Homo sapiens: one gene and its partners. The protein of the gene in region 1 purifies or fractionates together with the protein of each later gene. This does not show direct contact. Each region holds a gene or a part of one and is shown on either strand. Other genes may lie near its edges.

Region 1 (3,500 bases):
ACAAATTACCACAAATTTAGTGGCTTGAGATCATGCAAATTATCTTACAATTCCAGAGGCTAGAGTCAGAAATCGGCCTTATGGGGTTAAAATCAAAGGCTGCATTCCTCACAGAGGCTGTAGGGAAGAATCCATTGCTCGTCCTTTCCAGCTTTGAGAAGCTGCCTGCATTCCTTGGCTTGTGGTTGCATCACTCAAATGTCAGCTTTCATCATCACGTTGCCTTCTCTGACTCTGATCCCACTGCCTCCCTCTTTTTTTTTTTTTGAGATGGAGTCTTGCTCTGTTGCCCAGGCTGGAGGGCAGTGGTGCGATCTCAGCTCACCACAACCTCTGCCTCCTGGGTTCAAGCAATTCTCCCGCCTCAGCCTCCTGAGTAGCTGGGATTACAGGTGTGTACCACCATGCCTGGCTAATTTTTGTATTTTTTTTTTTACTAGAGGGGGAGTTTCACCATGTTGGTCAGGCTGGTCTCCAACTCCTGTCCTCGTGACCCGCTCGCCTCAGTCTCCCAAAGTGCTGGGATTAAAGGCGTGAACCACCAGGCACAGCCTGCCTCCCTCTTTTAAGTACCCTGATGATTATATTAGACTCATCAAATAATCCTGGATAATCTCTCCCTCTTATGATCCTTAATTTAATCACACCTGCAAAGTCTCTTTTTCCAGTAAGGGAATATATTTACAGAATTAGAGATTAGGATGTGGACATTTTTGGGAAGTCATGTTTCTACCTACCACAGGGTCTTACCCCAGGTGGCACATAGGTTCATGTAAATACCCAACAGAATAAAATTCCTTGTCAGCTAGTCAGCCTCCTAGTTTACAGAATGGGACAGAACCCTCAGGAAACACTGCCCAACAGAGGCGTTTGGTCGATCTCCGCTGTTTGGTGTATGTCCAATCTCAGTGCCCCCAGAGCAGATTATTCAAGAGATCCCAGCTGGCTGCACAGGGATATGAAACAGGAAAGGAGGCACTAGTATGGGTCTGGGGTCTGCTTGGATGACTTCTCACCATCTTCTTTTTTTTCCTCTTGGGACCAAGGTTGTGGGATATAAGGGAGGAAAACGACAGCTCTTCTTCACCTTCACGTCAGCTGTCCCCAGTGCCCTGCCCAGAAGGACACCTACTGAAAAAGCCCTGCCAGCTGATGGAAAAGCTCGACCATGCACCAGCTGATCTCTTTAAAAGTTAAATCTTTAAGCATTAATGCAGTGCTGAAGGAGTATTAATATTTTTGCCCCTGGGCAAAGGAACACTTGCTACTAGAGAAACAGGAGTGCTCTGCCAGCTCATCTTGGCTCCAGAGAAGGGCTTCGCACTTGTGAAATGTGTTGCTCGTGAAACAATTTCAAGACTTTTGGAATGAATAGCTGCCACCCATACCCGCTAGCTCCTCCACCAGCCCTCCCTATGCCACGTTTATGATGTCTGAGCTCCTGCTATGACTATTCCAGTCCCATGATGTCAACTTGGACTTGGCTGTTAAATAGGCCTCCTCTCCCTGGGGCTAGCACAAAGGAAGCCTGTCGAGAGGCAGCCAGGCTTCCTGACCACAATTTCCTGCACCTTTGCTCAAAGTGCCACACGTAAAAAATTTTATGGCTACTAATCAAACCAGGGCCTGAAATCACAGAGGGGGATGCTGACTGTCTGCTCCCCACAGCCCTCTTTGTTTGATTAGCCATTGTATCACTCCGGTGCTATTTAGGATCTGAAATAAATGCTAAAGTGAATTTCCGAACAATAAAATTCACAATAACAGCCACTAAATAGGGACCCACTGGTAACCACTTCCTGTAATAAAGTCCATATGTCAGCTTGACGCATTGCACCAGAAACTCAGGCCCTTCTCTCTTTGTAAATGCAGAAAAGCTTTTGTGTGCAGGCAACAGAGCTTCACCTGATGATAGCAGTGGAGTCTGGGGCCTCACAAAAGCAGGCAGGTGGCTCCAGGCTCCTGTCTCACCAGGTCGGCTCCTGTATCTCTGTGTGACCTCTCACCACAAAGTATTCCCCTGTATGCTTGGTACCCGTTGTCTGCTTCCAAGGTGAAATTCTCCTTCTGGTTTCTTGACCCTTGACAACCTGAGCTGCCTCCTCCCCCATGATACTTTACTCCTTTTCATCCCAACATACACCTCTGCTCCAGCCTCCTTCTCTGGAGTCTTGCTGAGAAAATTCCAACTGCCTATGGACCTCATGCAGAGACAGTCCTTTTTGCCCCAACCACTACTGTGCTCCCATTTCCCAGTCTGCTCCTCACTCAACTAAAGGCATCTAGGGACCTACTTTCCCCAGGATAACATCAACTCCAGCCAGCACAGTCCTCTCCCCTTCCCACCTGACCACCCATGGCACTGAATTCTGACCGTATGGTGGTCAGACAGTAGCCTCCTCACTGGTCTTGGTCTCAGGTACACAGGAGCCCTGCCAAGCCACTCTTACTGAGCTCTCTACAAGAACAGAGATGGGTTCCACCTCTTCCTCTCTCTGAGTTCTCTGGATCTTTTCCAGGGCAGCTCCACCTTCCTAATACTACATGTAATGTTCCAGGAAGGGCCTCTCTTGTCCTAGAAGTTTTATATCAAATAATATTTTTCTATCTTCATTTTCTCTCTTTGAAGTTGCCCAAAGCAGTGGCCACAAATTCAAGAGTTGAATGTAAATGTCATATCCTTCTGGCTTTGTGAGACTAGGCCAACAGCTGGGACTGGGCATCGGGCTTTGCCTGAGTCCACTCTGAACCCCATCTCCCCACCTCATCCAGACATTTCTTCCTTTTCCTAGAGGACTCCCCTTGTGCTCACTGGGTAAGGGAGCTGCGCCACCACATCACCACATTATCATATCCAAACCTGCCCCCGAGGGGTTGACCTGCTCATCAGGAACATTTTGGCAACACACAGCTCTGTTGCTTGTGCCTTGTCCTGGCACACAAAGATACAGGTACAAGAGCCAAGGCGACTCATCACTGACAGTATTCTCAGCCTGGACACTGATAGGGAATGTTATCGAGCTATTGTTAACTAGCTGGGCAAATGCTTCAGCCCAGCGGCACCCCCGAAACAGTGTGGCAGATGCTACCCTGTAGCCAGCTTGTCATCATAAACGGGTCTCCATTTTCAGAGAAACTTGAATTAACAAAAAAGATGGCCCTCTGAAGCCCAGGGCTCTTGAGATATAGAAGAGTTGTTTGCTTGGCACTAGCACTCTGGTCACCTTCCAAGAAGCAATTAGGTGAGGCCTGGCTTTGTGTTTAATTAAGTAATTAATTGTTAATTTGAGTAGATAATATACACACATGGGAAAAAATCAATCAGTACTAAAGGTTTTCTTTTCTTTTTTTTTTTTTTTTTTTGAGACGGTGTCTCACTCTGTCACCCAGGCTGGACTGCAGTGGCACGATCTTGGCTCACTGCAAGCTCCGCCTCCCAGGTTCACGCCATTCTCCTGCCTCAGCCTCCCGAGTAGCTGGGACTACAGGTGCCCGCCACC
Region 2 (3,500 bases), on another chromosome or scaffold:
AGGTGCAGGCCAGCCACTAAGGCACAACCGGCCCGCCTCGTGCGGGAACAGACCCTTCTCCATCTGGACCCAGGCCTGGGCTGGGTGGCGGGAGAATGGTTCTTTTGCTGAATCTATGAAATGGAAACTGGCAAAACTGCCAAATGAGGGCGAGTCAGAGGCCAGCGAGATGTGTCCGGATGGGGTGAGGAAGAGCCTCCTGGAACGGCAAAGGGGAGATGCTCTAAGGTGAAGGATGAGAAAGCAGAGCCCAGGGAGTGCAGAGGGCAGGGGAGACCGGAACAAAAGCGGGAACAGCCATGGCGATGGGGGGATGGGTACAGGATCTTTGTAGCCAAAATCATCAGGAATTTTCCATGTCGTCTCCAGGGACTAGCCCTGCCCCCAGCCTCACCCCTGCAGGCCCAGCCGCTCCCGCAGCTTCAGCCAAGCCGCTGCCTCCCGGCCCCTCCCTCTCCTGCCCGGACCCTGTCCCCTCCCAGGCCGGCCACGTTCCTGCTTCCCCAGACCCCCGGCACCACCCTGGAGCCCGGAGTGCCCGGTACCCACCTGAGGGCAGGTCGAGCTCCACGCCGACCCACGTGCCCTCTTGGAAGTCGGCAGGCCCCACGTATCTCACCACGCCCGTTTTGTGGGCGCCCACGGTGACGAACTCGCCCTCTCGGAGCCACTCCGGGACCTCGTCAGCTTCCTCGGAATCAGAGGCCAGGGCCTGTCCCCCGGCGCCCGGGGCCGGCGCATTCCCCTCGGCCCCCGGGGAGCAGCCGGGGTCCCCAGCCAGCATGCGCGAGAAGGAGCGCAACTCCGAGGCCCGCACCCTCCGGACGCGGAACGGGGAGCCGGGCGCCGGGGCCTCGAGGTCGGGGCGCTCCCGACCGGGGCTCACGAGCTGCTGGGGGCCAGGGGGCTCCTCGGCGGGGACGGCCGTGGGCGGTGGGGGGTGGCTGATGGGCGCCTCGGGCTCGGCCTCAGGGGCGGTGGGCATGGACCCCGGCGGGGCCGCAGCGTCCAGGCCGGGGCCCAGGGCGTCCGACAGGGTCGCGGTGGAGACGCTGTGGGAGAAGTACCCGCTAGAGGCTTCACTCAGGGGGCTGGGGGGCCCGTCCTGTGCCTCCGGAGCCGGGGTGACCGCTGTGACAGCTATGACAGGCGGTGGGGAAGGCACTTTGGCAGGTTTGTCGCAGATCTTCAAGGCCGGGGCCCCCATCGTCTGCACCAGCACGTCAGGGCCCATCTCCGGCTGAGCCTGCAGCAGGACGGGGAAGCAGGGGCTGAGAACAGAAAACTTTCCAACACGAACCAAGCAGGCAGCTTTGACTTGGAAAAGAGCATGAGGCCAGGGGCAGTGGCTCAGCCTGTAACCCCAGTGCTTATGGAGGGCAAGACGGAAGATCGCTTGAGCCCAGGAGTTCAAGAACAGCCTGGGCAACATAGTGAGACCCCGTTTCGACAAAATAAATAAATAAAGAACATGGCTGGGACCCGGCCAGGCCCTGGTTCCCACACTGGTTCTGCCACTTAGGGCTGCATGGCCCTGGCTTCCAAAGTGATAAAGGTTGAGGGGCCGACAGTGCACCCCGCAGGCCCTGTGCTGTGTGCCCAGGCTCAAGAGCACTGACCATGGCCACAGCCCCTGCCCCATCTACTTTTTACCTTTCATACAAAATAGAATCCAGGGCCTGCCATGCAGGGCCAGCACGCTACAAAGACCAAGGCCCCTCGCCACAGAGGGCAGCACACAGTAGGTGCACGCTAAAACCCTGCTAGGGCTAGTTAGCTTTCCTCCCATGGAGACAAAGCCCCTGCCCACCCCCAACCTCACGAAGAGACTGAGTCACTAAAGAGACCAGAAGAGCACTTTTTTGTCCGGCAAAACCTAAACAATGATCTCATCGGAGGACCGGAACACACTCAGCACAGCCTGGCCAGCTCAGGCACCAACAAGGAGCCACGGGCCTGCAGCCTGGCTGGGCATCCCGAGCAAGGCAGCAGGGGGACGAGGAGGGGTACGAGGAGGGGTATGAGGAGGGGGACGAGGAGGGGGACGAGGAGGGGGACGAGGAGGGGGACGAGGAGGGGGACGAGGAGGGGGATGAGGAGGGGACAAAGGCTCCCTGTGGGCCGTGGCCCTTTCTCTCCAAGGCTGCTGCTCTGGCTGCTATGGAAAGCAGGTGCCATGTCAGGGGCTGGGGGGGCCTCGGACCCTGGAGAGAGGCCAGGAAGCAGCCCCCAGGGAGAAGCCACCAAGTGAGGCCAGCAGCTCTCCTCATGTCGGTCACTCTGTCTGAGTCACCCAGGCAGAGGACACACACACACTCAAAGCCCACATCTCATGGGGGAGAGCAGCCACCGCTTGCCCAAATCCTATTGTTTCTGGGGCATTCTTTCATCTATAACTGAAGCCATGTGAAGAGGCTGCCAGATCATCTTTCTATTCCTATTCACAGTGACCGAAGAAAAGGAGAAGGCAGGAACAGGGAATGAGATTGGTGGGGTGGAGAGCACTGCTATCCAGAAGAAATATGTTTTCCGATATTTATGGAAAAATTATTTATATTACAGGAATGGTCATTTTCCATTTGAAATACGGGATTTATTTGAATGGGGAAGCGGCTGAGATCTATACGTCTCTTACAGTTACTTGGCTTACCTCAGCAGCTTGATAAATCATGCGTTTTCCCAGGAACTGTCCTTTATATTCCCGTTTCCAGGGGCCCTCTTTTCCCCACCAACCACACTTTCAGGGTAGGAAATTAATGGCACCTCTTGAGATTAACAGCCCATTTTTGTGGTGAATCTCTAGGCTGCAAAATTTACTCAATCCAATAGATCAATAACTGTCACCAGCATAAATACTCTAAAAGATTAGGCAATCCTTCAATCATTCTTCCTTTGCACATTGTCCATGTTTTATTTATTCTCTTCTATTTTAGTTTTAATATCACTGACCCAACAGGGGAGAATACGCAAAACTATGAGAGCCGGGAATCTGAACGGTAACCAGGGTCCTGAAATGGCTTCTGTTCCCCGCCCCCACCCCGGGTAAGGCCAGCCACTGTCACTTCCCCAGGCCAGGCTCTCCCAGGATGAGGCCAGCTGCATGCCTCAGATTTGCAAGTATCATCATCCCATTGGCTTCCATGTAAGACACTGGCTTGGGCTGGGCTGGAAGGATCATGGCATTATTCTACAGCAGGCCTCCAGAGGGGAAAGCCCTCATCCAAGGCTGCACTAAGTGAAAAGGCAGGCACTGGGGGCAGAGCTGCAGAGTCAACAAAGCAGGGAGCAGGATGGTGGAAAGCACAGACTGGCACTCCAGGCCCCATCCCCACTTGACTGGAGTTGATTTGTGAGTTGAAACCCAGATGCCATCTATGGATTATACCCTTGCCACTGAAGAAGACATTTCTGGAGACTTCTGCAAAAGCCCAAGCTTGGAAAACCACCATGATGAGCTACAGAAGCTGCTGCCTTCACTGGCAAGGGGCTTGCTCTGACCA
Region 3 (3,500 bases), on another chromosome or scaffold:
AGTGGCTCACGCCTGTAATCCCAGCATTTCGGGAGGCCAAGGCAGGCGGATTGCCTGAGCTCAGAAGTTCGAGACCAGTCTGGCCAACAAGGTGAAACCCGTGTCTACTAAAAATACAAAAATTAGCCAGGCATGGTGGTGGGCGCCTGTAGTCCCTGCTACTCAGGAGGCTGAGGCACTAGAATGGCTTGAACCTGGGAGCGGGAGGTTGCAGTGAACTGAGATCATGCCACTTCACTCCAGCCTGGGTGACAGAGCAAGACTGTCTCAAAAAAAACAAAAAGTCTCCATTCTTTATAAGACGGATGATATTGTACCACAGACTAGTTAGAGATTGAGGTCTCTGACGGCAGGCGCAGTGATCTCCTCTGGTCCAGCCAGCCAGGCAGCAAATGTCTTCATCGTGGAGCAGATAAGTCTCTCTCCATAACAGCCCAGCCACTGCCTGAAACACCGTTTCCCAGCTGATGACCCTCCGTTACATTTCCTCACCAGCTGATTAGGAACTACTACATTAACTTTTCTAGCTGAACAGAATGATTGGTTTCCAGATTGGATTACACAGCCAGCATCTCCTTGCTTCAATATGTGGCACAGTCGATAATCTTTAAATAATACAAGATCTGGCAGGGAGAAATTCAGCTCTTTTCCCCTTATTAATGCTTAGAGGAAAGAAAAATACCTAAAAGTAGCTGAGAGTCAGCTCAGCCCTGGTCAGAATCCTCATGTGAGTGTAATGTCAGAGCCGGGACCTGCACCTCTCAACAGCCCTGTGAGCAGGGCAGGGGTGATCATCAGGGGATGATGGACAGGAAAGACTGGGTCACGTGGCTGATTTGGGGACTCCAGCCCCATCTCCTGCCTGGCATTCTTCCCCCTGCTAGAGTCTCCGACAAGACACTCTGTCCCTCTTTTCTGAGCAGTCAGCCTAGAGCAGGCTGAACTGGGGGCTTTCTGTCCCCCAGGGGACACTTGGCAATGTTTGGAGACAGTTTTGGCTGTCACAATTGTGTGTGATGGAGGGGTGCTGCTGGCGTCTAGTGAGCAGAGGCTATGGATGCGGCAAAACATCTTGCAACGCACAGGACGGCCCCCACCACAGAGTTTGATCTGACCCCAAAGTGTCCGCAGTGGTAAGGTTGGGAAGCCCTGGCCCACCTTGATCCACGGGGATCCTGGCTGTGGCGTGGGGAGGTTAGGCAGAGCCAGCCAGCTCACAGCAGAAGGGGGACCCAGGAACAGGAGAAGGGGACGAGGACTCGGGGGATGGGCCCAGCTGACTGGGGTTCATTCATTTCTTGAACTTTGTGCAAGACACTGAGATTAGAGTTGACCTGGAGAGACACGGACTTGGACCTCATGGATGAAACAAGATGTGAACAAGTGAACAAAGGGCCACTTCCGCTGGTGAAAAACGCATGAAGGAGACGCAGCGGTGGCGGGACTAGCAGAGAGGGGTGGCGGCTCCAGAATGGCGCTCAATGGACATTTAATGAGAACAAAGTACAGAAAGGAGCAGGTCTTGTGACCAGCCAGAGAGCAAGTGTTCTGAGGAGGAGGAAGATGGAGTACAAAGACCCTGTGCTCAGAATCAGGGCGGTGAGTCCCAGTCACAGAGAGGTGACCGGTGTGGCCGAGGGTGGTGAGAAGCACCATGGGCATGGGCAGCCACATCACACAGGCGGTCACCGGCGTGGAGAGGCAGGGAGTGGGCCCAGGGTTGTCACCTTAGGTGAGGACGTCAGCTGCAGGCAGAGTCCCCACCCCCTGCAGTAGCTGGTCCACACCAGCTCATCAGGCATGAATGCTTCACTAGTTCCGTTTCGTGCCATCCTCCAAGGAGCCTTTGTAGGGTAGGCACCATCCTGAGAAGTTACCCAAATCGCCGGGGCCACACATGTGCTCAGGGGTTTGCACCTGAGCCATCTGATTGCAGAGTCAAAGCTCTTGGCCGCCGGGTTATGAAGTCCTGTCCCATTCCCTGTTGGTGTGGCAGGAAGGGTACCTCCAGGACTCTGGACATGAACACAGAGTGATGGGGAGAGCAGGTAGTGTGGCTTCAGTCCAGGAAAGGATTCACACAGGGCTGGCATACCGCTTCTGTGAAGAGCCAGAGAGTAAAGGTCTTGGGCTTTGCAACTCAGCCCTGCGACTGCAGAGGTATAAGGGAATGCGAGCAGCTGTACCCAGTGAAACTGTATTCACAAAGACAGATGGAGGCTGGCCTGGGCCCTTAGGCCATGGTTTAGGGACCCCTGAATCTAGAGCTGGGAGATGGAGGGTGGAAAGAGGCAAAGCAGCTCACTTATGAGCCGACTGAGACAAAAGGAGTGGAGAGGACACGCTGGGTCTATTTCCTGAGCCTCTCGGGGCAGGACCTGCTTGGCACAGGGACCATCCTCGGCAATTTGTGTACTTGCATCGGGAGACTAAACCGAGGGAGAGAAGTGCCCAGGAGAAGGCTGCCCTGTGTCAGAAAAGGCCCAAGGCTCTGCTGGAGAGGGGAGGCCTTTCCCGGCCCCTCAGGATCCTTCGGCCCTTGTGACTCTGATGCAAGGTGTCTGAGAACTGAAAGATACAAAACATCCCCCAAGAGTGGGGGTGGCACCCGGGCCACGTGAGAAGGGAGCCCTTTCCTCCCTCCTTCCACTGCCTTCCGCCACCACCTGCCTCCAGCTGGTCCTCTTTGGTCACCATCTCGGGGTCACTTGGGATCCAACAAAACCTGGGTCACTAACTGGCTCCAGGCCCTTCTCTTTAAATGAGGCACATCTGGAGAAGGATGACAACTGCAGTGCGTGCCTGCTGGGGCCAGACATGTGTCAGGTGGGCAGAGGTTTTAAAACAGGAAGGAGTGGCGGGGGCTGTGGCCAACAGGGAAGACAGTGGGCAGCCAAAGGGGCCGCCCATCCCCGGCCCGTCCTGACCATATGGAACTGTGGGCCCGTGAGACATCTGTTTCCTTTCTGGAAGCTGGAAATCTGGATCCCTACATCACCGCCACCACCTCCCCTTTTTCTTTAATGTTACCAACTCAGATTTGTTTTTGAGACATAGAAGATACAGGCTACCTGGGGTGTCACTTCAGCCTGCACCCCTGAGTTTTCAGCGTCAGGGCGTATGCAAAAGCCCCCCTCAGCCTTGTTGCCGGCCCACCTGGGTGTAGCACCTGCCTACCACCTGGTGGGCAGCCTCCAGCTCTCTGGGACTCAAAGAAGCTAAGTGGCTTCCCCAGTCCCCGTCCATTTCTACCCAGAGACAGGCACTGCAGGGCCCCTTTTTCCCAGTTTAAATCAACATTTTTACATCCATGATACTTTTTTTCCTTTTTAATTGAGGTGAAGTTCAGATAACATCAAACTCACCATTTTTACAATTATATACAATGCAGAGGCATTTAATAGGTTCACAGTGTTGCACACCTCTACCTAGTTCCAAAACATTTCATCACCCCAAAAGGGAACCCCGTACCCACAAAGCAGTCACTCCTCACTACCCTC

Evidence for each region. Proteins that work in one complex are often made in the same cells at the same time.
Region 2: the proteins of TGFBI (region 1) and KIF13B purify together in Homo sapiens (affinity purification with mass spectrometry; one large-scale study listed by BioGRID and IntAct). This does not show direct contact.
Region 3: the proteins of TGFBI (region 1) and SULF2 purify together in Homo sapiens (co-immunoprecipitation; one large-scale study listed by IntAct). This does not show direct contact.

The regions. Positions count from the first base shown.
Region 1 is NC_000005.10:136,035,488-136,038,987, reverse strand, and holds part of TGFBI (transforming growth factor-beta-induced protein ig-h3 precursor), read right to left. Parts: intron 1-3,500.
Region 2 is NC_000008.11:29,071,071-29,074,570, forward strand, and holds part of KIF13B (kinesin-like protein KIF13B), read right to left. Parts: intron 1,247-3,500; coding exon 550-1,246; intron 1-549. UniProt on the Homo sapiens protein: Involved in reorganization of the cortical cytoskeleton. Regulates axon formation by promoting the formation of extra axons. May be functionally important for the intracellular trafficking of MAGUKs and associated protein complexes.
Region 3 is NC_000020.11:47,666,982-47,670,481, reverse strand, and holds part of SULF2 (extracellular sulfatase Sulf-2 isoform a precursor), read left to right. Parts: intron 1-3,500. UniProt on the Homo sapiens protein: Exhibits arylsulfatase activity and highly specific endoglucosamine-6-sulfatase activity. It can remove sulfate from the C-6 position of glucosamine within specific subregions of intact heparin.